Homo sapiens: one gene and its partners. The protein of the gene in region 1 interacts with the protein of each later gene in a biochemical or structural test. Each region holds a gene or a part of one and is shown in the gene's direction. Other genes may lie near its edges. The genes, in order: H3C15, DNTTIP2, PADI4, MECP2, KDM5C, EHMT2 and SETDB1.

Evidence for each region.
Region 2: the proteins of H3C15 (region 1) and DNTTIP2 form a complex in vitro, tested with the Homo sapiens proteins (one study listed by BioGRID).
Region 3: of the proteins of H3C15 (region 1) and PADI4, one has a biochemical effect on the other in vitro, tested with the Homo sapiens proteins (one study listed by BioGRID).
Region 4: the proteins of H3C15 (region 1) and MECP2 form a complex in vitro, tested with the Homo sapiens proteins (one study listed by BioGRID).
Region 5: the proteins of H3C15 (region 1) and KDM5C form a complex in vitro, tested with the Homo sapiens proteins (3 studies listed by BioGRID, with this or other methods).
Region 6: of the proteins of H3C15 (region 1) and EHMT2, one has a biochemical effect on the other in vitro, tested with the Homo sapiens proteins (one study listed by BioGRID).
Region 7: the proteins of H3C15 (region 1) and SETDB1 form a complex in vitro, tested with the Homo sapiens proteins (one study listed by BioGRID).

Annotation. Positions count from the first base shown.
Region 1 is NC_000001.11:149,851,108-149,853,625, forward strand, and holds H3C15 (histone H3.2), read left to right. Parts: upstream 1-1,500; 5' UTR 1,501-1,547; coding exon 1,548-1,958; 3' UTR 1,959-2,018; downstream 2,019-2,518. Other genes in the region: H2AC19 (histone H2A type 2-A), read left to right, coding at 7-399. UniProt on the Homo sapiens protein: Core component of nucleosome. Nucleosomes wrap and compact DNA into chromatin, limiting DNA accessibility to the cellular machineries which require DNA as a template.
Region 2 is NC_000001.11:93,872,707-93,876,206, reverse strand, and holds part of DNTTIP2 (deoxynucleotidyltransferase terminal-interacting protein 2), read left to right. Parts: intron 1-423; coding exon 424-562; intron 563-2,992; coding exon 2,993-3,088; intron 3,089-3,500. UniProt on the Homo sapiens protein: Regulates the transcriptional activity of DNTT and ESR1. May function as a chromatin remodeling protein. Part of the small subunit (SSU) processome, first precursor of the small eukaryotic ribosomal subunit.
Region 3 is NC_000001.11:17,362,351-17,364,504, forward strand, and holds the end of PADI4 (protein-arginine deiminase type-4), read left to right. Parts: intron 1-1,171; coding exon 1,172-1,405; 3' UTR 1,406-1,654; downstream 1,655-2,154. UniProt on the Homo sapiens protein: Catalyzes the citrullination/deimination of arginine residues of proteins such as histones, thereby playing a key role in histone code and regulation of stem cell maintenance.
Region 4 is NC_000023.11:154,087,718-154,091,217, reverse strand, and holds part of MECP2 (methyl-CpG-binding protein 2), read left to right. Parts: intron 1-3,500. UniProt on the Homo sapiens protein: Chromosomal protein that binds to methylated DNA. It can bind specifically to a single methyl-CpG pair. It is not influenced by sequences flanking the methyl-CpGs.
Region 5 is NC_000023.11:53,211,708-53,215,207, reverse strand, and holds part of KDM5C (lysine-specific demethylase 5C), read left to right. Parts: intron 1-360; coding exon 361-519; intron 520-3,301; coding exon 3,302-3,421; intron 3,422-3,500. UniProt on the Homo sapiens protein: Histone demethylase that specifically demethylates 'Lys-4' of histone H3, thereby playing a central role in histone code. Does not demethylate histone H3 'Lys-9', H3 'Lys-27', H3 'Lys-36', H3 'Lys-79' or H4 'Lys-20'.
Region 6 is NC_000006.12:31,880,699-31,884,198, reverse strand, and holds part of EHMT2 (histone-lysine N-methyltransferase EHMT2), read left to right. Parts: exon of another isoform or gene 1-248; coding exon 249-393; exon of another isoform or gene 394-759; coding exon 760-837; exon of another isoform or gene 838-1,189; coding exon 1,190-1,305; exon of another isoform or gene 1,306-1,413; coding exon 1,414-1,500; exon of another isoform or gene 1,501-1,526; intron 1,527-2,638; exon of another isoform or gene 2,639-2,803; intron 2,804-3,077; exon of another isoform or gene 3,078-3,106; coding exon 3,107-3,185; intron 3,186-3,350; coding exon 3,351-3,500. UniProt on the Homo sapiens protein: Histone methyltransferase that specifically mono- and dimethylates 'Lys-9' of histone H3 (H3K9me1 and H3K9me2, respectively) in euchromatin.
Region 7 is NC_000001.11:150,929,363-150,932,862, forward strand, and holds part of SETDB1 (histone-lysine N-methyltransferase SETDB1), read left to right. Parts: intron 1-604; coding exon 605-756; intron 757-3,500. UniProt on the Homo sapiens protein: Histone methyltransferase that specifically trimethylates 'Lys-9' of histone H3. H3 'Lys-9' trimethylation represents a specific tag for epigenetic transcriptional repression by recruiting HP1 (CBX1, CBX3 and/or CBX5) proteins to methylated histones.

The DNA of each region.
Region 1 (2,518 bases):
GCTGTCATGTCTGGTCGTGGCAAGCAAGGAGGCAAGGCCCGCGCCAAGGCCAAGTCGCGCTCGTCCCGCGCTGGCCTTCAGTTCCCGGTAGGGCGAGTGCATCGCTTGCTGCGCAAAGGCAACTACGCGGAGCGAGTGGGGGCCGGCGCGCCCGTCTACATGGCTGCGGTCCTCGAGTATCTGACCGCCGAGATCCTGGAGCTGGCGGGCAACGCGGCTCGGGACAACAAGAAGACGCGCATCATCCCTCGTCACCTCCAGCTGGCCATCCGCAACGACGAGGAACTGAACAAGCTGCTGGGCAAAGTCACCATCGCCCAGGGCGGCGTCTTGCCTAACATCCAGGCCGTACTGCTCCCTAAGAAGACGGAGAGTCACCACAAGGCAAAGGGCAAGTGAGGCTGACGTCCGGCCCAAGTGGGCCCAGCCCGGCCCGCGTCTCGAAGGGGCACCTGTGAACTCAAAAGGCTCTTTTCAGAGCCACCCACGTTTTCAAATAAAAGAGTTGTTAATGCTGGCCACTCTCAGTCCAGCGTTCCTCAGTAGTGAATAGCGAACCTGGAGCTGACGGGACGGGACGGGACGGGACGGGACGGGACGGGGCGGGGCGGGGCGGGGTGTGTGTGTGTGCGCGCCGTCTTCCATCTGGAGCACGTAACTGCCTTGGCTCTTCGATGAGTGGGTCCCCAGTCCTAGGACTTCCCAGGGCAGGTGCAGGCACCAAACGTCCTGGGCGCCGCCACGGTCCGCTCCACACAGTCACAAACACCAGCGCCGCGGGCAGTACCCAACGCGCTGAAGTGTTGCGCGCGGAGCGCGCGCTTCCCTAGTGGTTTCCGCAGGCTATGGCCGGACACTTAGACCTAGTCTGGCACCAGCGGGACGTGCTCCTCGTCCCCACCCCCGATGGGGAGGGCCCTGAGCGGGTAGTGCTCGCTAGTGTGGCGGAGCTGGGTCTTGGCTTCACTGAGCTGACTTAAGTCTTAGTTTCTGTTTTGTTTTCCAAAGCGCCCTGGCGGCGGAGAGTAAGGGCCTCGGAGGCGGAATCTTGCGTCCTGGGGGCGGGCACCTCTCCCACCCAAAAGGCACCCGACAGGCGAAAAACGATCCGCCAAGTAGCAACTGGGGGCGGGGGGCAAATGGAAGAATGAGGTTCCACGCGGGAGCTGTAGGGCGCAGCAAGAAAGGGGGGGTATTGCGGGCAGTGTGTTCTAAGGAAGCGAAGGGCGGAAAGGGAACAATCTGACAAAGCTGCAATGGAAAATGACTTTCACCCTGAAGGAAAGGGGAAAAACAAGCTTGCGAAACTTCGCCAACTGGTAAGTAGAAAGTGAGGCGGGGTGGGCGGGATTAGGGAGGAATCTGCCCAAGCCAACCGGTGACTTTAGGACGGGTGACGTCACAGCCAATGGACAGCCAGCGCGGGATTTTCAATTATTGTTCCGCCCAATCGGGAAAAGACTGTGCTTATAAAGACGGCTGCGGCGGGGCTAGGAGCTCGTTTTTCTCCCCGCCGCTGCGCTGGTAAGCCTGTGTTTTGGTTCGCTATGGCCCGTACTAAGCAGACTGCTCGCAAGTCGACCGGCGGCAAGGCCCCGAGGAAGCAGCTGGCCACCAAGGCGGCCCGCAAGAGCGCGCCGGCCACGGGCGGGGTGAAGAAGCCGCACCGCTACCGGCCCGGCACCGTAGCCCTGCGGGAGATCCGGCGCTACCAGAAGTCCACGGAGCTGCTGATCCGCAAGCTGCCCTTCCAGCGGCTGGTACGCGAGATCGCGCAGGACTTTAAGACGGACCTGCGCTTCCAGAGCTCGGCCGTGATGGCGCTGCAGGAGGCCAGCGAGGCCTACCTGGTGGGGCTGTTCGAAGACACGAACCTGTGCGCCATCCACGCCAAGCGCGTGACCATTATGCCCAAGGACATCCAGCTGGCCCGCCGCATCCGTGGAGAGCGGGCTTAAGAAGTGGCGGTTCGGCCGGAGGTTCCATCGTATCCAAAAGGCTCTTTTCAGAGCCACCCACATCAGCACTTGGAAGAAGCTGTACCGCTTGCCCTCCGTGCTCCTCCGGCATTAGAGCGGGGAAGGCACTTCCGCTTAGGCTCCCAACAAAACGGGGTCGGGTCCCCCTGCTGCGGTGCCGTCTTGAGCTTTGCCGACTTCGGCCAATTGGCCTATCCGCACTGGCCGGGCTGCGGACGCTTTCCTGGGCGCCGGCTCGCGGGCTTTGGCGGTCCGGCTCCCCCCGCGCGTGACCGGGGCCCTGCGTGGCGGGGGGGCCGGGGCAGGAGAGACGGGGCGTCGGGCACGAGGCCAGGGGTCACTAGGGGGACGCTCAGGGCTCGCGGTCCTGAGCGCGGCTGGCCTTTGCGGAAGTGGAGCGCCACACGCCCGTGCTTCGCGCCCAAACCGGCCTCACCCGGCGCGGCCATCCGGCTAGGGAGGGAAATGACCACCTCGGCCTCGCCGGGGTTCTGCGGACAAACGTGGGGAGAACTGCGCTGGGGCTGCCGTTCAGTCCC
Region 2 (3,500 bases), about 56 Mb from region 1:
ATAAAAATATGAAATGTTAGCCTGGGGAATGAGAAAATCACTGCCTTGGGTTCTTCATGGAATGGCTCATTCATTTGACATTATGGAGCCAGGTGTTGGGTGTGCACCTGTAGTCCCAGCCACCCAGGGAGGTTGAGGTAGGAGGATCACTTGAGTCCCAAGAGTTCAAGGCTGCAGTGGTCACTACTGCACTCCATCCTGGGCCAACAGTGAGACCCTGTCTCAAAAAATAAAATAAAATGATGAAAAATATATTTATTTAGAGTTTTTTTTCAGGAATTCCTCATAAAAATAAGATGCTTTTTTTTCTTTATTGTGGACAATACAAGGGAAGAGAAGAATAAGTGATTTTTTAAAATGCCATCTTATATGTTTCCATTTTGATTTAATTACTTGATCTTTAAGTGATGATTTCTTTTTCAGTCTGAAGTTGACAAGCAGCAGCATAGACCCTGGTCTGAGTATCAAGCAGTTGGGTGGTTTGTATATTAATTTTAATGCAGATAAACTACAGTCTAACAAGAGAACCCTAACACAGATCAAGGAGAAAAAGAAAAATGAGGTAAGTTAATTGTGCTGTTAGGTTTTCACAGAACTAACCAATCACTTTTAGAAATTAGTCCTTGGTAAAAGACTTAATTTTCCTACAGTGAAACCACATTGGCCTAATGTGTTAGTTTTTTCCTTCTCTCTAAAACAGTCATTTCTTTTTACAATAAAATCCTATCTATGAATGATAATGCTTTAAAAATAAATCAATACAGGGTCAGTGTTCCTCATCTTACACCCACCAATTATGATCCCAGGGGTTTTGTTTTTTTCCCTTTTCTTGCTATACTTTTAGTTCTTAAGTTCTTAACTAGTGTAGACTGTTGAGAATCTGAAAGCTGTGAATGCCTGCCTGCCTCTTCCACCCGGAAAAAAATGCACATGTGCATATAGACATTTTACATATAATTTCAGAAGGAATTACTGTTAAGGTAACTTTACCCAAACCCTTAGCTTTAGCCAACACCTTGCACTGTTTTCTCCTAAATCTATATTTTCTAGCCTTGATGCTTCTCACTGTCACTTTCAGACCTTTAAATCCAAGTACCTATTTGTTCATTTAGATGTCCTCAGGTACTTGACGTCACTAATTCCCCTTTCCCTGCCTGAACCAGGAATCCTCTTCTTGTATTCTTTTTTCTGGCTAATGAAACCAAACTCTCTTTTCCTTTTGTAGTCAGTCACCAAGCCTCTAGGGGAAGATATTTCTCTGCTTCCTCCTTTTCAAGCGACTGTCACCAGCTAGTGCAGGCCTTTGCTTCTCATCTGGACTACTCCAGTGGCTTCCTTATTGATCTTGTTTTCATCTTGTTCTTCAAGCCATCCTCCACACTTCTAGATTTCTCTGTCTAAAAACACAAATCCGGCTGGGCAAGGTAGCTCACATCTATAATCCCAGCACTTTGGGAGGCTGAGGCAGGAGAATTGTTTAAGCCCAGGAGTTTGAGACCAACCTGGGCAACATAGCTAGACCACATCTCTCCTCCCTGCCCCAAAAAACACACCACACACACAGATGTGACAGTATTCTCTTGAATCCTTCAAAGTACCTCTCTACCCCACCCAGCTGTCATCTGCTCTATTCTTGCCACTGAAGACTACTGTAGTTGCCTGAACTTACCCTGCTTTTCCCCAAGCAAGTGCAAAATAATTGATCGTTGCCCTTGGGGAATATTTTACCTCCAGTCCTTCTCACAACCCCTCTGTTTCCATAACATCTAGCATAGATCTGATTCATTGTTGATCATGTGATATATTAACTTACCATCTTTTCTTTATATTCCTAAAACAGGGTTTTTCAGTCTCAGCACTACTGATGTTTTGGGCTGCATAATTTTGTTGTGAGATGTTCCGTGCATAGTAGGATGTTTAACAGCATCCCTATCTTTTGCCCACTAGATGTCAGTAGCATTCTTCCTTATCCTCACCACCACCAAAAATGTCTCCAGACATTGCCAGATGCTCCCAGTTGAGAACCACTGTCCTTGAATGTACTACAGTACTTGACTCACAGCAAACTCTTAATCATTTGTTAAGTAAATATCATGCCCCCTTTTATGAGTGATAGGAAAGCCTAGACGGCTACCTATACCACACAGAAACATCTAGGCCTGAACCTGAATTGTGTGCCTGACTGTTAATTTCTGAGTTGATCATTTCAAATGTCAGTCCCAAATTAATGCTTGTACTATATTCCTGTAAACTATTTTGAGGGCTACAGAGCAGTCTTACTTGGTTCTTGTACTGAGAAAAATACTAATTAACCTGAGGTTCCTTTAGTCACACAGAGTTTTAGGAGAATATAATCATCCTAGTCAAGTAACAAAAGTACAGAAATCATTTAGGAAAAGATAAACAGATTTGACTGCACAAATTTATTTATTTATTTTGGAGAAATGGCGTTTTCTTATGTTACCCAGGCTAGTCTTGAACTCCTGGCCTCAAGTGATTGTCCTGCCTTGGCCTCCTAAAGAGTTGGGATTATAGGCATGAGCCATCGTGCCTGGCCTTTTTTTTCTTTTTTCTTTTTTTTTTTGGGAGGGAGCTGGGTTTGGGGGGAGACAGGGTCTCACTCTGTCACCCAGGCTGGAGTGAGTGGCACAGTCATAGCTTGCTGCAGCCTCAAGCTCCTGGCCTCAAGTGATCCTTCTGCCTTAGCGTCCTGAGTAGCTGGGACTACAGGTGTGTGCCACCATGCCCAACTAATTTCTTTTCTTTTTTTTTTTTTTTTTACAGTCAGGGTCTTGCTATGTTGACCAAGGTGGTCTAAAACTCCTGGCCTCAAGTGATCCTCCTCCCTTGGCCTCCTCAAAGCACTAGGATTATAGGTGTGAGCCACTTTGCCAGGCTGACTAAAAATTTTAAAACTTACAGAAGTTTAAACTGTTGAAAAACTTATATAACATTCTGACATTATTTTAAAACCAATTTTATGTTTTTATAGCTTCTGCAGAAAGCCGTCATTACACCTGATTTTGAAAAAAACCACTGTGTTCCACCATATAGTGAATCAAAGTATCAACTTCAGAAAAAACGCAGAGTAAGTACAGTGACTTAATTAAAATGCTTAGATATGTTTGGCTATATATTTTCAGCTTATACAACATAACTGCACAATTAAACTGTATCTGTTGGTCTATATATGAGTCCAAAGAAAATAATTACAGATTTCTAAGGGCTGTAAAATATAGTACCATAAACACATTATGTATAGATTTTCACATCTTTGCAGCCACAATAGTGCATCTATAAGTAGAGGTTTTTTAAAAAAATATATATATATATAGATTACTTCTATCTGCCATTTCGACTAGTTATCCAGAGAGCTTGAAGGAAAGTTGAGGATGGTATTCTAGTAATGTTACTGTAATATGGAGCACCCTGGCACATGGTAGGCACTAACTAAATACTTGTTGTATGAATGAAACAAAATTAAATAACTTGTAGGAGTT
Region 3 (2,154 bases), about 130 Mb from region 1:
CAAAAAAAAAAAAAAAAAAAAAAATTAAATAATGTCCTTTGCAGCAACCTGATGGAGCTGGAGGCATTATCCTAAGTGAACTAAAACAGAAAATCAAATACTGCATGTTCTCACGTATAGGTAGAAGCTAAACAGTGGATACACATAGACACAGAGATGGAAATAATAGGCACTGAGGACCCCCAAAATGGAGAGAATGAGAGCGAGGTGAGGGCTGGAAAATTACCTATCGGGTACGATGTTCATTGTTTGGGTAATGGATACACTAGAAGCCCAGTGCCCACCAGTAATCAATATACCCATGTAATAAATATGCATATGTACCCCCAAATCTAAATTTTTAAATTTAAAATAAATAAGAGTATGGAACTTGGAGTCTAATAGCTGTAGTCCAAGTATAGCTGGGTGGCCTTAGGCAAACAATTTTCCACGTCTGGGTCTCAGTTTTCTCATTTGTAAAGTGGGGCTATTATTTTTATTTTGTTTTAATTTTTGAGACAGAGTCTCGCTCTGTCACCCAGGCTGGAGTGTATTGGAATGATCTCGGCTCACTGAAACCTCCACTTCCTGGGTTCAAGCAATTCTCCTGCCTCAGCCTCCCAAGTAGCTGGGATTACAGGCACACCTGGCTCATTCTTGTATTTTTAGTAGAGACGGGGTTTCCCCATGTTGGCCAAGCTGGTCTCGAGCTCCTGACCTCAGGTGATCCACTCGCCTAGGCCTCCCAAAGTGCTGGGATTACAGGCATGAGCCACCACACCCAGCAATTTTTATTTTTGAGGTAGAGTCTCGCTCTGTCGCCCAAGCTGCCAGGCTGGAGTGCAGTGGCACAATCACAGCTCACTGCAGCCTTGACCTCCTGGGCTCAAGTGATCCTCCTCCCTCAGCCTCCAAAGTAGCTGGGACCACAGGCACGCACCACCATGCCAAGCTAATTTTTAAAAATACTTTTTTTAGAGATGGGGTCTCACCATGTTGCCCAGGCTGGTCTCAAACTCTTGGGCTCAAGCGATCCTCCTGCCTCAGCCTCCCAAAGTGCTGGGACTACAGGTCTGAGCCACCACCCCTGGAGGGGCTATTATTTCCAAAGGTCAGAGAAGGGTGGGGCCGCTCAGATTGCGCTGCAGGCTGCCCGCTGCTGCCTGTGACCTGAACCCTCACTTCCCTGCAGGTGAACATGCTGGTGCTAGGGAAGCACCTGGGCATCCCCAAGCCCTTCGGGCCCGTCATCAACGGCCGCTGCTGCCTGGAGGAGAAGGTGTGTTCCCTGCTGGAGCCACTGGGCCTCCAGTGCACCTTCATCAACGACTTCTTCACCTACCACATCAGGCATGGGGAGGTGCACTGCGGCACCAACGTGCGCAGAAAGCCCTTCTCCTTCAAGTGGTGGAACATGGTGCCCTGAGCCCATCTTCCCTGGCGTCCTCTCCCTCCTGGCCAGATGTCGCTGGGTCCTCTGCAGTGTGGCAAGCAAGAGCTCTTGTGAATATTGTGGCTCCCTGGGGGCGGCCAGCCCTCCCAGCAGTGGCTTGCTTTCTTCTCCTGTGATGTCCCAGTTTCCCACTCTGAAGATCCCAACATGGTCCTAGCACTGCACACTCAGTTCTGCTCTAAGAAGCTGCAATAAAGTTTTTTTAAGTCACTTTGTACATGAGGTCAAGATGTTGTTGGTATCATTCATTCATTCACTCATTTGTCATGGTTGAATTGACTATCACAAAACAAACTGAAAAGTGTTAACAGGCTGCACTGAAGGCCACGTTATTGTGTGTGTCTTTTGCTCCCAGACATGTATTTGGGCTATAAAATTTTGCATGATCCTAGTTCGTTCTGAGTTTCCCACGGGACCTTTCCAAGAAGAGGAGGAGGAGGGAGCAGGGGAGGGGTAAGCCCCGCTGAGAATCTGGGCATATCCCTCTTTAAACTCACCTACAACTGGGCATTCACCTACGTACTGATAGCGATGGATTTTTGTGGAATGAAGTAATTCATCTCCTCGGTGTTCTTTTTTATATTGCCTTTTATGGCTTCGACATAAAGACTCAGATTCCTCTGTAGAAAATAAAACTTGATGGCTTGAGATCATTAAAATTGAGACCAGATATTGGCTCAAAAGGGTCCAAGATATTCAGAGAACACCCAGGGATCCTGTTA
Region 4 (3,500 bases), on another chromosome or scaffold:
ACTGAGACCCTAAGTCGTTCTTTGTTGTCTCTCTAGTGGTTTCTGACACCTCAGTGTGAAGCTGTTGTAGACATCCATAAGAAATAGCCTGCTTAGGGATTATGTGAGGGCAAGGTTTGGCTGAAGGAGAATAGAAGGTGTGGAAGGAAGCGGAAGACCAGAAGAGCATCACACTGCCTCAAGTCCCAAATTTGATTCTGCTCCTGATCCTGTGACTCAAATTGTCATTCTCTTTTACTGCTGTGGGGTGTGCTCTGGGCCCAGCTGACAGGACATTCTTTGTACTCCACGTATTTATGCTGGTGGGAGTTGTATGGCTAGTGCTTTGTGCTTTGTCTCAGAAATTGTGTGGACTAAATGTAATATGGGCAGTGAATGGGTTTCTTCTGGAAGATGTTAGGCCTGGAGGGTGGTTTGGGTTTTTACGAGTCTTTTTCTCAGATTACAGATTACGAATGGATGTTATAAAACAGGCAGTGTTGACACCATACAGTTTCTCCTAAGAAATGTACAGAGAGTTCAACCTGAGGAAGCTAATTGAAAATAAACTTTTAAAAAGAAATGTAGAAAGAGGAAATTTAAAAAGTATCTTATGAATGGGAAAGATGTAGCCATTTGAGCTTCAAAGAACTTTTGAGGGAATTCTCAAAGGACAGTACCCGTCTTTAGTAGATAAATGCTTGATATCTATTTTTCTTCTTTTACTTTTTAAAGAATTACTAAAATAATACATGGATTTATAGAAAAATCAAACCACTTAAAAATTGATCAGGTGGCTGGGCAAGGTGGCTCATGCCTGTAATCACAGCGCTTTGGGAGGCCTAGGCGGGTGGATCACCTGAAGTCAGGAGTTCGAGACCAGCCTGGCTAACACGGCGAAACCCCATCTCTATTAAAAATACAAAAATTAGCTGGCCATGGTGGCTTGAGCGTGTAGTCCCAGCTACTCGGAAGGCTGAGGCAGGAGAATCACTTGAACCTGGGAGGCGGAGGTTGCAGTGAGCCAAGATCACACCACTGAACTCCTGCCTGGGTGACAGAGTGAGACTCGGTCTCAAAAAAAAAAAAAAAAAAAAGTATCAGGTAAAAAAATGAAAGCTCCCCGCTTAATCTCTGCTCCCACTACCCAGAATAACTGCTGTTAATAGCTTAATGTAGATCCTTCTAAGTCTTCTAAGACTAAACTGTGTACTTTTTGTGTTGTAATTAACAGGAGGGTTTTTGTTTTGTTTTGTTTTTTCTTTTTTTGAGATGGAGTCTTGCTCTGTCATCCAGGCTGGAGTACAGTGGCACAATCTTGGCTCACTGCAACCTCCACCTCCTGGGTTCAAGTGATTCTCCTGCCTCAGCCTCCTGAGTAGCTGGGATTACAGGCGCCTGCCACCACACCCAGCTAATTTTTGTATTTTTAGTAGAGATGGGTTTCACCATGTTGGCCAGGCTGGTGTCGAACTCCTGACCTCAGGCGATCCACCTGCCTTGGCCTCCCAAAGTGCTGGGATTACAGGCGTGAGCCACCGTGCCTGGCCTCAGGATGGTGTTATATATACATATTCTGCATTTTTCCATCTCATATATTCATCTCTGCCTCATTTCTTTTAAATAGCAGTGTAGTCCAGGGCTGACTTACCGTCATGCATTTCGTTGTCTCTCTATGTTATTAAAAATGCTACAGGATTGAAATTCCTCATGTGCCAGTCATTTTGAAGAATGGCTGCCTAGACTTGGAATTTCTGGTGGATACCACCACATCACTGTCCAAAATGGCTATCCCAGTTCCCACAACAGTCTGAGAAAGTGCCATTTTCCCATATCGTCCCAGAATTGGATATACATCTTTTAAATTGGTGCCGCTTGGATTATTACTGAGGCTAAACCTCAATAATCATTGTCATAGCTCTTAATGTATTAAAGATGTTAACTCTTTGTCATGCAGATATTTTCCTGTTTTGTCTTACGTCTTGATTCTTGTCTTTCTGATATATAAAATTTATGTTATGATTTATTCTTTTGCTTTCATACTTAGGAAATCCTTTTTTACTCTTTTTTTTTTTTTTTTTTTTTTTTTTGAGACGGAGTCTCGCTCTGTCGCCCAGGTTGGAGTGCAATGGCGTGATCTTGGCTCACTGCAAGCTCCATCTCCCGGGTTCATTCCATTCTCCTGCCTCAGCCTCCCGAGTAGCTGGGACTACAGGCGCCCGCCACCACGCCTGGCTAATTTTTTTGTATTTGTGAGACAGGGTTTCACCATGTTAGCCAGGCTGGTCTCGATCTCCTGACCTTGTGATCCGCCCGTCTCTGCCTCCCAAAGTGCTGGGATTACAGGCGTGAGCCACCGCGCCCCGCCAGGAAATCCTTTCCTACTCTTAACAACAGATCAATAGTCATCTATATTTTCTTCCTAAAAAACCTGATGATGTATTATATTCATACATACGTATTTAATACATACAAAAGGGCCAGATGCGGTGGCTCATGCCTGTAATCCCAGCACTTTGGGAGGCTGAGGCGGGTGGATCACCTGAGGTCAAGAGTTCAAGACCAGCCTGGCCAAGATGGTGAAATCCCGTCTCTACTAAAAATACAAAAATTAGCCAGGCGTGGTGGCGGGCACCTGTAATCTCAACTACTGGGGTGACTGAGGCAGGAGAATCGCTTGAACCCAGGAGGCAGAAGTTTCGGTGAGCCAAGATCACGCCACTGCACTCCTGCCTGGGCGATAGAGTGAGGCTCTGTCTCAAAAATAAAAAATAAAAATAATAATTTTATAGTTAAGTTGCCCTGTGTTTTTCCTGTGATTAAAAAAAAAAATACCTGTTTTGTATTTAACTTTGGGGTGGGATAAGGTATAGCCCACTTAGTCAGTTGTGTCTAAGCCACTTGATGAACCAGTCAATCCAGTCTTCACCTTTAACAAATGCTGATTTCTTCAAGTGAGCAAAATATCTCTTAAACTTTTTCCTATTTTCTCTATAAAGTTGCTTTTTTCTGAATTTTTTCTTTATGAGGCTTGATGGGCAGCCCTATCAGCAGACAATCATTCATTCACCCAACAAATATTTGAGTATCTGCTTCAAGCCAGGGGCAGTGCTAAGCCCTGGAAGTGGTATCTTCTCCTTATCCGGGAGTGGGGCTACAGTGTTCATTCCAGAAGACTCAAGAAAATAGCAGATCATCACAAAAGTAGGTTTTACATAAATGAGGAGGAATCCACAGGGTTGTGTATATGTGTGTGTATTTTAAATTCTGACATAAGTTGGAGCTTTAGGGTAGACTGTGACATAAGAGTAGTTTGTTTTCCAACTCATGTAATTGCCGGCTGATTTTTGTCTTGAATTATGATAATGGTAACTTCTGTTGAAACAATTCTGTATTCATCTTAGCTTGGTTGGGATGCAATAAAAGTTTTGTACTGGTAAAAATGATAATTTTCTTCCATGATGATTTTGAAGCTTTTCTGTAACACCTGATAAAAATAGAGGGGCCAGGCATGGTGGCTC
Region 5 (3,500 bases), on another chromosome or scaffold:
TCTAGGCTCCCACAGTGCCCTTTATGGACCGCTATTGGCAATTTTTAATTTTTATGAACACATGTCTCTAGAGTACTGTATATACTTGGAAGGATACCATGTCTTGTCTTTGTGCTAGAGTCCAGCGTAGTTCTGAATACGGGTTTAGTAAGTGTTTATTGGATGAATAAAAATGGGAGGATTCAAGACTGGATGATAAAAGACTGCTCTTGCAGCTCTACCTGCTTATTTGGGGAGATGGTACATACGTGCAGTTGAGCTCCAGACCTAGCATGACTAGCCTATACAGGGCTGTAAATCATTCAGCCAGCAAACACAGTGGATTTCCAATGGAGAACTTTTGCTCTTCTCCCCTGGCAGATTGAGTCATATGTCTGCCGGATGTGTTCTCGAGGGGATGAGGATGACAAGCTCCTGCTGTGTGATGGCTGTGATGACAACTACCACATCTTCTGCCTGCTGCCTCCTCTGCCTGAGATCCCCAAGGGTGTCTGGCGGTGCCCAAAGTGTGTCATGGCGGTAAGGCCTCCCCACTCCACATCTGCCTCATAGGGCTTCCTTGCCTTCCTTCATCTGGCCTTATTGAGGGCAGCCTCTTAGCTCAGCCATAGTCTTAGGTTTTGGGTCTCTGTGGTGGGATTAGGCTGGGCAGAGCTTTGGGAGAAAGGAGCAGGAGATTCAGCCTTTGCTTCTGTCCTCTAAGAGCTCCCAGACCACCTGGAGAGGTAAGCATCATAATTAGACTATATGTGGTGACATATAAACAGAGGCTAAATTGTGTGTTAGAAACTCTGAGATATAGAAGTTCAGAGGAGAGGAAAATAGCTAAGGGTAATAATCAGGGAAAATGTCAGAAATGAGACTTGAAGGATAGGAATATTAAGAAAAAAATGTTCTTTCAATTTCTGAGTTTTTGTTTTGTTTTTTTTTTTCTTTTTTAGAAAGTTTGAGGCCGGGCGCGGTGGCTCACGCCTGTAATCCTAGCACTTTGGGAGGCTGAGGTGGGCGGATCGTTTGAGCCCAGAAGTTTGAGACCAGCCTGGGCAACATGGCGAAACCCCGTCTCTACCAAAAAAGATACAAAAATTAGCCAGGCATGGTGGCGCACGCCTGTTGTCCCAGCTGCTCGGGAGGCTGAGGTGGGAGGATCGCTTGAGCCCAGGAGGCGGAGGTTGCAGTGTGCCAAAATCATGCCACTGCACTCCAGCCTGGGCAACAAAATGAGACCCTGTCTTCAAAAAAAAAAAAGACATTTTGGAAAATAGGCAAATTACTTGTGTTCCCACCACCCAGTGATAACCATTGTTAATAGTTTGATATATTTTTTTCTCATCTTTTTGCTGTTACTTATATGTAACTATCTTTAACAAGTTTGAGATCTTGTTATATATTTTCATTTGTTGCTTTATAACCATTTCTCTATATTACTAAGTTTAATTAAGGTCTGGAATTTTTTTAGATGGTGTATCATGGGTATAATATTTATTTAGTTGTTTTCCTCTTGTTATATTTAGATTGAGGCAGTGCTACAGGCTTTAACTAGAGAGGTGGTTGGCTGTTCAGGACTGGGAGGTGGAGGACTAGCAGGAACAGAGGTATAGCAGGAGAGCATGCCTACTATGGGTATAGGGGCAGTAAGGAGAGCAGCTGAAGCAGCAGTAAGGGCCAAGCAGCCAGGAAGTTGGGCAGGTACATTTCATGAACTTCCTACCTTCACCCAAATTCTCGGTACTTACCTTCTACATTTCCCTCTGGATTTCTGTAGAGCAGACATTCGCCTTATCTTAGGGACTCAACTGTGGTTGTAGAGACCGGGTGTGCACATGCATACATACACACAGACAGACATACACAGATGAGGAAAAATCAGGGCAGTGCATATTGGCCTTGGTAGTGGTGGAGATTCTAGTTGGGGAGGAGTTTGGATACCAACAGTATCAAGACTGTCGACTCTACTTGACTCTCTTCTCTAAGTGGTTATAAGTCAGTGGACCAGACGGACATTTATTTTTCAAACATAAGCATGGTGTGTGTCTGATTTTGGGGTACATATTGTTCTCATCTAAAATAATGAACATAGGTACAAAATGAGGTAGACCCACATCCTATCTTCTGAGACAGTCTCAAGAACAGGATTAGTGGAGGGTTTGATACTGTAAAAGCCAGTGTCTTCATTTTCCATCTTTCTTTTTTCTTTTTCTTTTCTTGCGACAGAATCTTGCTCTGTCACCCAGGCTGGAGTGCAGTGATGCCATCTCTGCTCACTGCAACCTCTGCCTCCCGGGTTCAAGCGATTCTCCTGCCTCAGCCTCCTGAGTAGCTGGGATTACAGGCGCCTGCCACCACACCTGGCTAGTTTTTGTAGTTCTAGTAGAGACAGGGTTTCACCATGGTGGCCAGGCTGGTCTCGAACTCCTGACCTCAGGTGATCCACCCCACCTCAGCCTCCCAAAGTGCTGGGTTTACAGGCATGAGCCACCATGCCCGGCCCTGTTTTCCATCTTTCAAGGTACTGGAATATTCAATGCCATTTTCCCAGCCTTACAGTTCTAGTCTGGGCATAAAAAACCTTCTCTAAGCACCCTGCATAGAACCACATTTTAGAGGCCAGGCGTGGTGGCTCACGCCTGTAATCCCAGCACTTGGGAGGCCAAGGCGGGCGGATCACAGGGTCAGGAGTTTGAGACCAGCCTGGCCAACATGGTGAAACCCCATCTCTACTAAAAATACAAAAATTAGCTGGGCGTGGTGGCGGGCACCTGTAATCCCAGCTACTCGGGAAGCTGAGGCAGGAGAATCGCTTGAACCTGGGAGGCGGAGGTTGCAGTGAGTTGAGATTGTGACCCTGCACTCCAGTCTGGGTGACAGAGCAAGACTCCGTCTCAAAAAAAAAAAAAAAAAGAATCACATTTTAGCTAGAGAGGAAAAATGGTGGCAGAAGAACACAGGATAGCATATTAAAGTCAGAGCCATTTAGATAAAGTCCTAAAGGAAGAAAAGAGCATGAGATGACTCCCTGGAAGTTGTGAGACTGGAATTGAGTTTTGAGGAACCAATGAAAGAAAGTGGAAAAGGACATTTCAGTAGGGAGGAACTGAGCAAAAGCATGATGGGGAATGAAAAGACTAAGCCGAAGTGGTAAGAGCAAAAGGTACAGCTGTAAAGTAAGGCCTGCCTCAGGGGCCTTGAGTGCAGACCTAGGGCTCTTCTCCCTCCCTACCCCTTATATTCCAGTTCCACTTGGGAGGATTCTTCACCTCTTTGCCTCTGTTTTGGTGACATGTTCTCCTTTGGGTTTCAGGAGTGTAAGCGGCCCCCAGAAGCCTTTGGCTTTGAGCAGGCTACCCGGGAATACACTCTGCAGAGCTTTGGCGAGATGGCCGACTCCTTTAAAGCTGACTACTTCAACATGCCCGTGCATGTAGGTGATGGAGGGCTGAGGTAGTGTTGGGCTAGGATCATAGGTATTGATGCCAGATGGTCTCAGCTCACCTGGATCA
Region 6 (3,500 bases), on another chromosome or scaffold:
TGGAATTTCAGATGCACAGATGCATACTTTTTTAGTGTGAGAATGTCCTGTGTAATTTTTGGGACATACTAAAAAGCTATTTCTTGTTTATCTAAAATTCTATGTTAACTCGCTGTCCTGCATCTTACCTGGCAACCTTACTCCCCTGCCCCCAGCCCCAGGAACCTCCCCAACTCTCTTCCTTATACCTGGAGTAGCTCCTCACCCCCTTTTCCAGCTTCCCAGCCCCTTCTTCCCGTCTTCTGCAGGGACGTGGCTCGGGGCTATGAGAACGTGCCCATTCCCTGTGTCAACGGTGTGGATGGGGAGCCCTGCCCTGAGGATTACAAGTACATCTCAGAGAACTGCGAGACGTCCACCATGAACATCGATCGCAACATCACCCACCTGCAGGTGAGTAGGGGGCCCGGGGCCTCCCCAAAAGGACACCGAGAGCTGCCAAGTACAGTTGGACAAGCTTCAAACCAGCAAAGGCACCTGGCCAAGGAAGGGTTGGCTGAAAGGGAGCCCTGGTGTGGGGTCGCATCCCCACCAGGGGAGGGATCCTTTTCCTAGGTCACAGCAAGGTATCATATGAGCTCCCAGTAGCCCTGGGGACACCACCATACTGATTACCCGTCACCCTAGGACCATCACCACCCACTGTTGTAACACATGGACCCCAAAGAAAGGACAGTGGTTAGGGGGTCAGGGGGCATCAAGAGTAGAGGGGCCCAGACCGATCATGGGGTTGAGCTGACCTCTGCCTCCTCGCCCCAGCACTGCACGTGTGTGGACGACTGCTCTAGCTCCAACTGCCTGTGCGGCCAGCTCAGCATCCGGTGCTGGTATGACAAGGTGCGTGCCCCTTGCCTTGGCCACAGACACCCGGCCCCTCCTTCAGAGGAGCCAGCCTCCAATAAACCAGCTCCCTGGGACCATGTCCCTCACCTCCTACCCTGTGGGGGAAGTGACTGAGAGGACTGGGCAAGGCCTGGGAATCCTGGGATGTGGCTGGGACAGCGATGGGCGTGTGCCCAGGTCTATGCAAACCAGGGATGATGCTCCTGCATTTCGTGCTCTCGGATCTCAGAGCCTGTGTGACCTCCCCAACCCCAACTTCCCTGTCTCTGTAGAGTCTTGGGGTTCCTGGGTGGGCAGCTGAGGTGGGCCCCACAGAGAAACCACTATCCTCCCCTCCGCACCCTAGGATGGGCGATTGCTCCAGGAATTTAACAAGATTGAGCCTCCGCTGATTTTCGAGTGTAACCAGGCGTGCTCATGCTGGAGAAACTGCAAGAACCGGGTCGTACAGAGTGGCATCAAGTGAGGCCCTGCTCCACAGCCCACCCTCTCCCCACCTCACCCTTTCCTCCCTGCCCCTGGGGCTTTTCCAGGGCCTCCACCCAACAGCGCCATCTCTCCTACCCCCAGGGTGCGGCTACAGCTCTACCGAACAGCCAAGATGGGCTGGGGGGTCCGCGCCCTGCAGACCATCCCACAGGGGACCTTCATCTGCGAGTAAGTCACCGGGAGCACCTTAACACCTGGTGGGAAGGGGATACATGGCCACTGCTGACTGCCAGGCCTCCCTCTCAGCCATCTGCCCTGATGAGTCACATGTCTCCATCTGGCCACTCTCCAGCCAGCCTCCTCTGACCCCTATTCCTGCAGCTGAGCAGCCAGCCGCCTCTGACCCCCATCCCCCCAGCTGAGAATGGCACCTGCCTCCACTCTGCCCAGACCACAGAGCTTGTCTTCCCTCCCCTCCACCTCCACCCTCTACCTTCCCCTCCACCCCCTCCTCGCCCTTCCTAGCTGGAGAAAGTGCCAGTTTGGGAGACAAACAGACTTGGGTTTGAGCCCCTCTCTGCTTCTGGATGTTCTTGGCCAAGTTACTTAACCTCTTTGAGCCTTATTTTTCTTGTCTGTAGAGTGGAGGTGATAACAGCTACCTATCTGTCCACCTCCTCAGGGGCCTGTCCCTCTCCATCAGTTCTTTCTCTGCCCAGCATCTGTAATCTCCCCCTTTCTCTTGGCTGCCATCCCACAACCCTCAATCTTACTTTAGTCTCCTTTGGCTCTTTTTTTTTTTTTTTTTTAATTTATTTTTTGAGACGGAGTTTCACTCTTGTTGCCCAAGCTGGAGTGCAATGGCACAATCTTGGCTCACTGCAGTCTCCACCTCCCAGGTTCAAGCGATTCTCCTGCCTCAGCCTCCCAAGTAGCTGGGATTACAGGTGCGCACCACCACACCCGGCTAATTTTTTGTATTTTTAGTAGAAACGGAGTTTCACCATGTTAGCCAGGCTGGTCTCCAACTCCTGACCTCAGATGATCCGCCCACCTCGGCCTCCCAAAGTGCTGGGATTACAGGCGTGAGCCACCGTGCCTGACCATTCTTTGGCCTTTAAAAAAGATAGTCCTCTAACCATACTTGCCTGTTCAACAGACCATCCAGTTTCTTTCCATCATGTCATCTCTCAACTTCTCTGGCAAGCAGCCCCTTCCTGCTGGGCCTCAGTTTCCCCACCATCCACTCACTGCCTGTCCCTGCCAAAATCGGCCTTTGCCCTTCCCACTCTGCTGAAGCTGTCTCTTGACAGTCACTTCCCACCCACGTCCTCTCCGTGTGTCTGAATCTCCCATGTCTGCTCACCCTCCTTAGATAGCTGGCTCCTCTCCTCCCTCTGGTGTCCAGATATGTGTGGGTGCTCTTGCCCCGAATCATGCCTTGAGTTCCTTGCCACTCCTGTACCTCTGGCTCTTCCTGCAGTCCTGGCCCCTCTCCTGTTCCATATCGCCCATTCCTGCCGGGTGGCTCCTGGAACACAAACCTCTCTGTGTCCAAACCCGAACTTCCCCACCCAGGCCAACTGCCCCTACACATTAATCCCCTTAACCACAGAGCTTGTTGTCTGTCTCTGTGCTGACTGAAGGCTTCCTCTGTCAAGGCTGGAATGCTGCCCTTTCACTTGCCCACCACTGCTGCTCCAGGCCTTCCCTTCCCCACACCTGCCAGCCCTGCCCATTCCAGATTCCACAGGCTTGTGAAGAGAGATGGGGCCTGGAGCCACCTCCTAATAGCCCACACTCACCTTCAGAACCATGGATTCCTGTCCCACAGGTATGTCGGGGAGCTGATCTCTGATGCTGAGGCTGATGTGAGAGAGGATGATTCTTACCTCTTCGACTTAGACAACAAGGTGAGCAGGAGACCCTCCTTACCCTGCTGCTCCCCAGGGCTGGCTTTCAGGAGCCTCTGGGAAGTCAGCAAATGGAAACCTGGGGAGGAGGGACTGGGGAGTCAGTGGGTGGGGAGGGCAAGCAGGGTCGGGGGAGATGTGAAGAGTGCCATCCCCCTGCCCCAGGATGGAGAGGTGTACTGCATAGATGCCCGTTACTATGGCAACATCAGCCGCTTCATCAACCACCTGTGTGACCCCAACATCATTCCCGTCCGGGTCTTCATGCTGCACCAAGACCTGCGATTTCCACGCATCGCCTTCTTCAGTTCCCGA
Region 7 (3,500 bases), 1.1 Mb from region 1:
TATTTTATTTTTATTTTATTTTATTTTTTTTTTAGACAGAGACTTGCTCTGTCTCACCCAGGCTGGAGTACAGTGACGTGATCTCGGCTCACTGCAGCCTCCGCCTCCCGAGTTCAAGCAGCTCTCCTGTCTCAGCCTCCGGAGTAGCTGGGACGACAAGCGTGTGCCACCACACCCGGCTAATTTTTGTATTTTTAGTAGAGATGGAGTTTTACCATGTCGGCCAGGCTGGGGAGGTCAAATTCCTGACCTCAAGTGATCTACCTGCCTCAGCCTCCCAAATTGCTGGGATTGCAGGTGTGAGCCACCACTGCCAGCCAGGATACATTTTCAGATAACAGCAAGGTAAATAATGAGGTAAGGGTGAAAGTACTGTACTTTGGGCTTACTTTGGATTTTTGAGGAACTAGTCTGGAAACTAAACCACTATTTAAAACATTTTTCTATAGAAAAAGCATTCTAAATTCTAAACAGAGACACTTTGGAATGTGGCCCATTTAAATTGAGGACTGTCTATACTTAAATATATATACATCGTAATGGATTCTATATCTCTTAATTCCTCTACTGGCTTTGACCTTTTCTGCATGTGTTCCAATATTAGGGCAGTGACTAATTGTGAGTCTTTGGTGAAGGACTTCTACTCCAAGCTGGGACTACAATACCGGGACAGTAGCTCTGAGGACGAATCTTCCCGGCCTACAGAAATAATTGAGATTCCTGATGAAGATGATGATGTCCTCAGTATTGATTCAGGTAAGGGATGAGCTTTGGATAGGAGAGTCTCAGGACTGAAGTTGAAACACTGGAAGATGAGCAAATAGAAGATAATAGAAGAGAGGAGAAACCATTGTCACTAACTCCATATTTCTAACTGCCTGAGTTGGCTATTAAAGAAAAAAATGCAACATTGTTAGTATCATAGATGTTCCCTATGTGCTACACCCTGATTGTATTACTTTGCTTTCCTCATTCTGTGTAACCCCTATTTTGGGGTATTCCATCAAAGAGTGGAATTGCCAGGACTTATAGTGAGTGTATGTTCTGTTATTAGAATATAAAAAATACAGTTGGTTTTTGTGTATTGATCTTGTAGCCCGCAACCGCATTAAACTCACATAGTTCTAGAAGCTTTTTGTTGATTCCTTAGGATTTTCTTTTTTTTTTTTTTTTTTTTTTTTTTTGAGATGGAGTCTCGCTCTGTTGCCCAGGCTGGAGTGCAGTGGCGCAATCTCAGCTCACTGCAACCTCTGCCTCCTGGGTTCAAGCAATTCTCTGCTTCGACCTCCCAACTAGCTGGGATTACAGGCAAACCCCCTGCCCCACCACCACACCCAGCTAATTTTTGTATTTTTAGTAGAGACAGGGTTTCATCATCTTGGCCAGGCTGGTCTTGAACTCCTGACCTTGTGATCCACTTGCCTTGGCCTCCCAAAGTGCTGGGATTACAGGCATGAGCTGCTGCACCCAGCCAATTCCTTAGGTTTTTCTAAAACTAATTCATGCAAGTAAAGTCTGTTTTACTTCTTCCTTTCTACCCTGGATATCTTTCTTTTTCTTTTCTTATTGTACTCACTAAAACCTTCAGTACAGTGTTGAATAAGTTTTAAGAGCAGGCCAGATACAGTGGCTCATACCTGTAATCCCAGCACTTTGGGAGGTTGAGGTGGGAGGATCCCCTGATCCCAGGAATTTGAGACCAGCCTGGCCAACGTAGCAAGACCTCATCTCTACTAAAAATAAAAAAATTAGCCAGGCATGGTGGTGCACCCCAGTAATCCCAGCTACTTGGGAGGCTGAGGTGGAAGGATCTCTTAAGCATAGGAAGTTGAGGCTGCAGTGAGCTGTGATTGTGCCACTGCACTCCAGCCTGGGTGACAAAGCAAGACTCTTGTCTTCAAAAAAAAAAAAAAAAAAAAGGGTTTCCAGAACAGACATCCTGGCCAGGCGTGGTGGCTCACGCCTGTAATCCCAGCACTTTGGGAGGCCAAGGAGGGCGGATCATGAGGTCAGGAGATCCAGACCATCCTGGCTAACACGGTGAAACCCCATCTCTACTAAAAATACAAAAAATTAGCTGGGCGTGGCGGCGGACGCCTGTAGTCCCAGCTACTTGGGAGGCTGAGGCAGGAGAATGGCGTGAACCCAGGAGGTGGAGCTTGCAGTGAACAGAAACCACACTACTACATGTATACATATGTAACTAACCTGCACAATGTGCACATGTACCCTAAAACTTAAAGTATAATAAAAAAAAATTAAAAAATAAAAAATAAAAAAAATAAAGATAAACCAAAAAAAAAAAAAAAGAAACCACACTACTGCACTCCAGCCTGGGCGACAGAGTGAGACTCTGTCTCACCCAAAAAAAAAAAAAAAAAAAACAGACATCCTTTTCTTCTTCCTGATGTTGATATGAAAGCATTTGGTGTTTAACCATTAATTATGTTAGCAGTAGGTTTTCTATAGATGTCATTTATTAAATTAAAGGAATCCCCTTCTAATCCTAGTTTGAGAGATTTTATCATAGCCTAATTGGATTTTGGATTTTGTCAGCTTTTTCTGTATCATTCTCCTATGTTCCTTTTGTCTTTTATCATATTAAGAATGTATTACAGTAGTTGTTTTTTTAGATGTTAAACCAACCTTGCATTCCTGGAGTAAACCAGCCTTGGTCTTGATGTATAATTCTTTTTATATGTTGCTGGATTGGATTTGCTGATTTAAAAAAAAAAGATCTTGGCTGGATGCTGTGACTCATGCCTGAAATCCCAGCACCTTGGGAGGCCGAGTTGGGCAGATTGCTTGAGCCCAGGAGTTCAAGACTAGCCTGGGCAACATGGTGAAACCCCTTCTCTAATTTTTTTTTTTTTAAAAAAAAAGAAAGAAAAAAATTTTTACATCTGTTTCATGAGGGCTATTGGTTTATAGTTCTGTTGTGGTGTCCTTGTTTGGCTTTGGTAGCAGGGTAATATAGGCCTTGTAAATGAGTTGAGAAGTGTTCCCTCCTCTGAGTTTGTATGGAATGATATTTCTTCCTAAAAAGTTTGATAAATTCAGTGCTGAGGCCATTTAGGCTTGGACTTTTCTTTGTGGATTTTTAAAATCTTTTATTTTGGAATAATTTTAGATTTATAGAAAAATTGAAAAAGTAATAGAGTTCCTATATATCCCTCATCTAGTACATATGTCAAAACTAAGAAGCAAACACTGGTATATTACTTTTATATAAACTTCAGGCTTTATTCAGCTTCTGGACTTTTTCTGTTCCATGATCTAATCCAGGATATCACATTAAATATATTTCCAGTGTGATGTTTATTTTCTTCCTTTTACTTACTGGGTTTGATTTGTTCTTCTTTTTCTAGCCTCTCAAAGTGGAAGCTTACAGGATTGATTTTAGACCTTTCTTCCTTTCTAATATAAGCTCTAAAGCTATTTATTTCCCCGTAAGCATTGCTTTGCTGCATCTCATAAATTTTTTTCCATACAGTGTCACT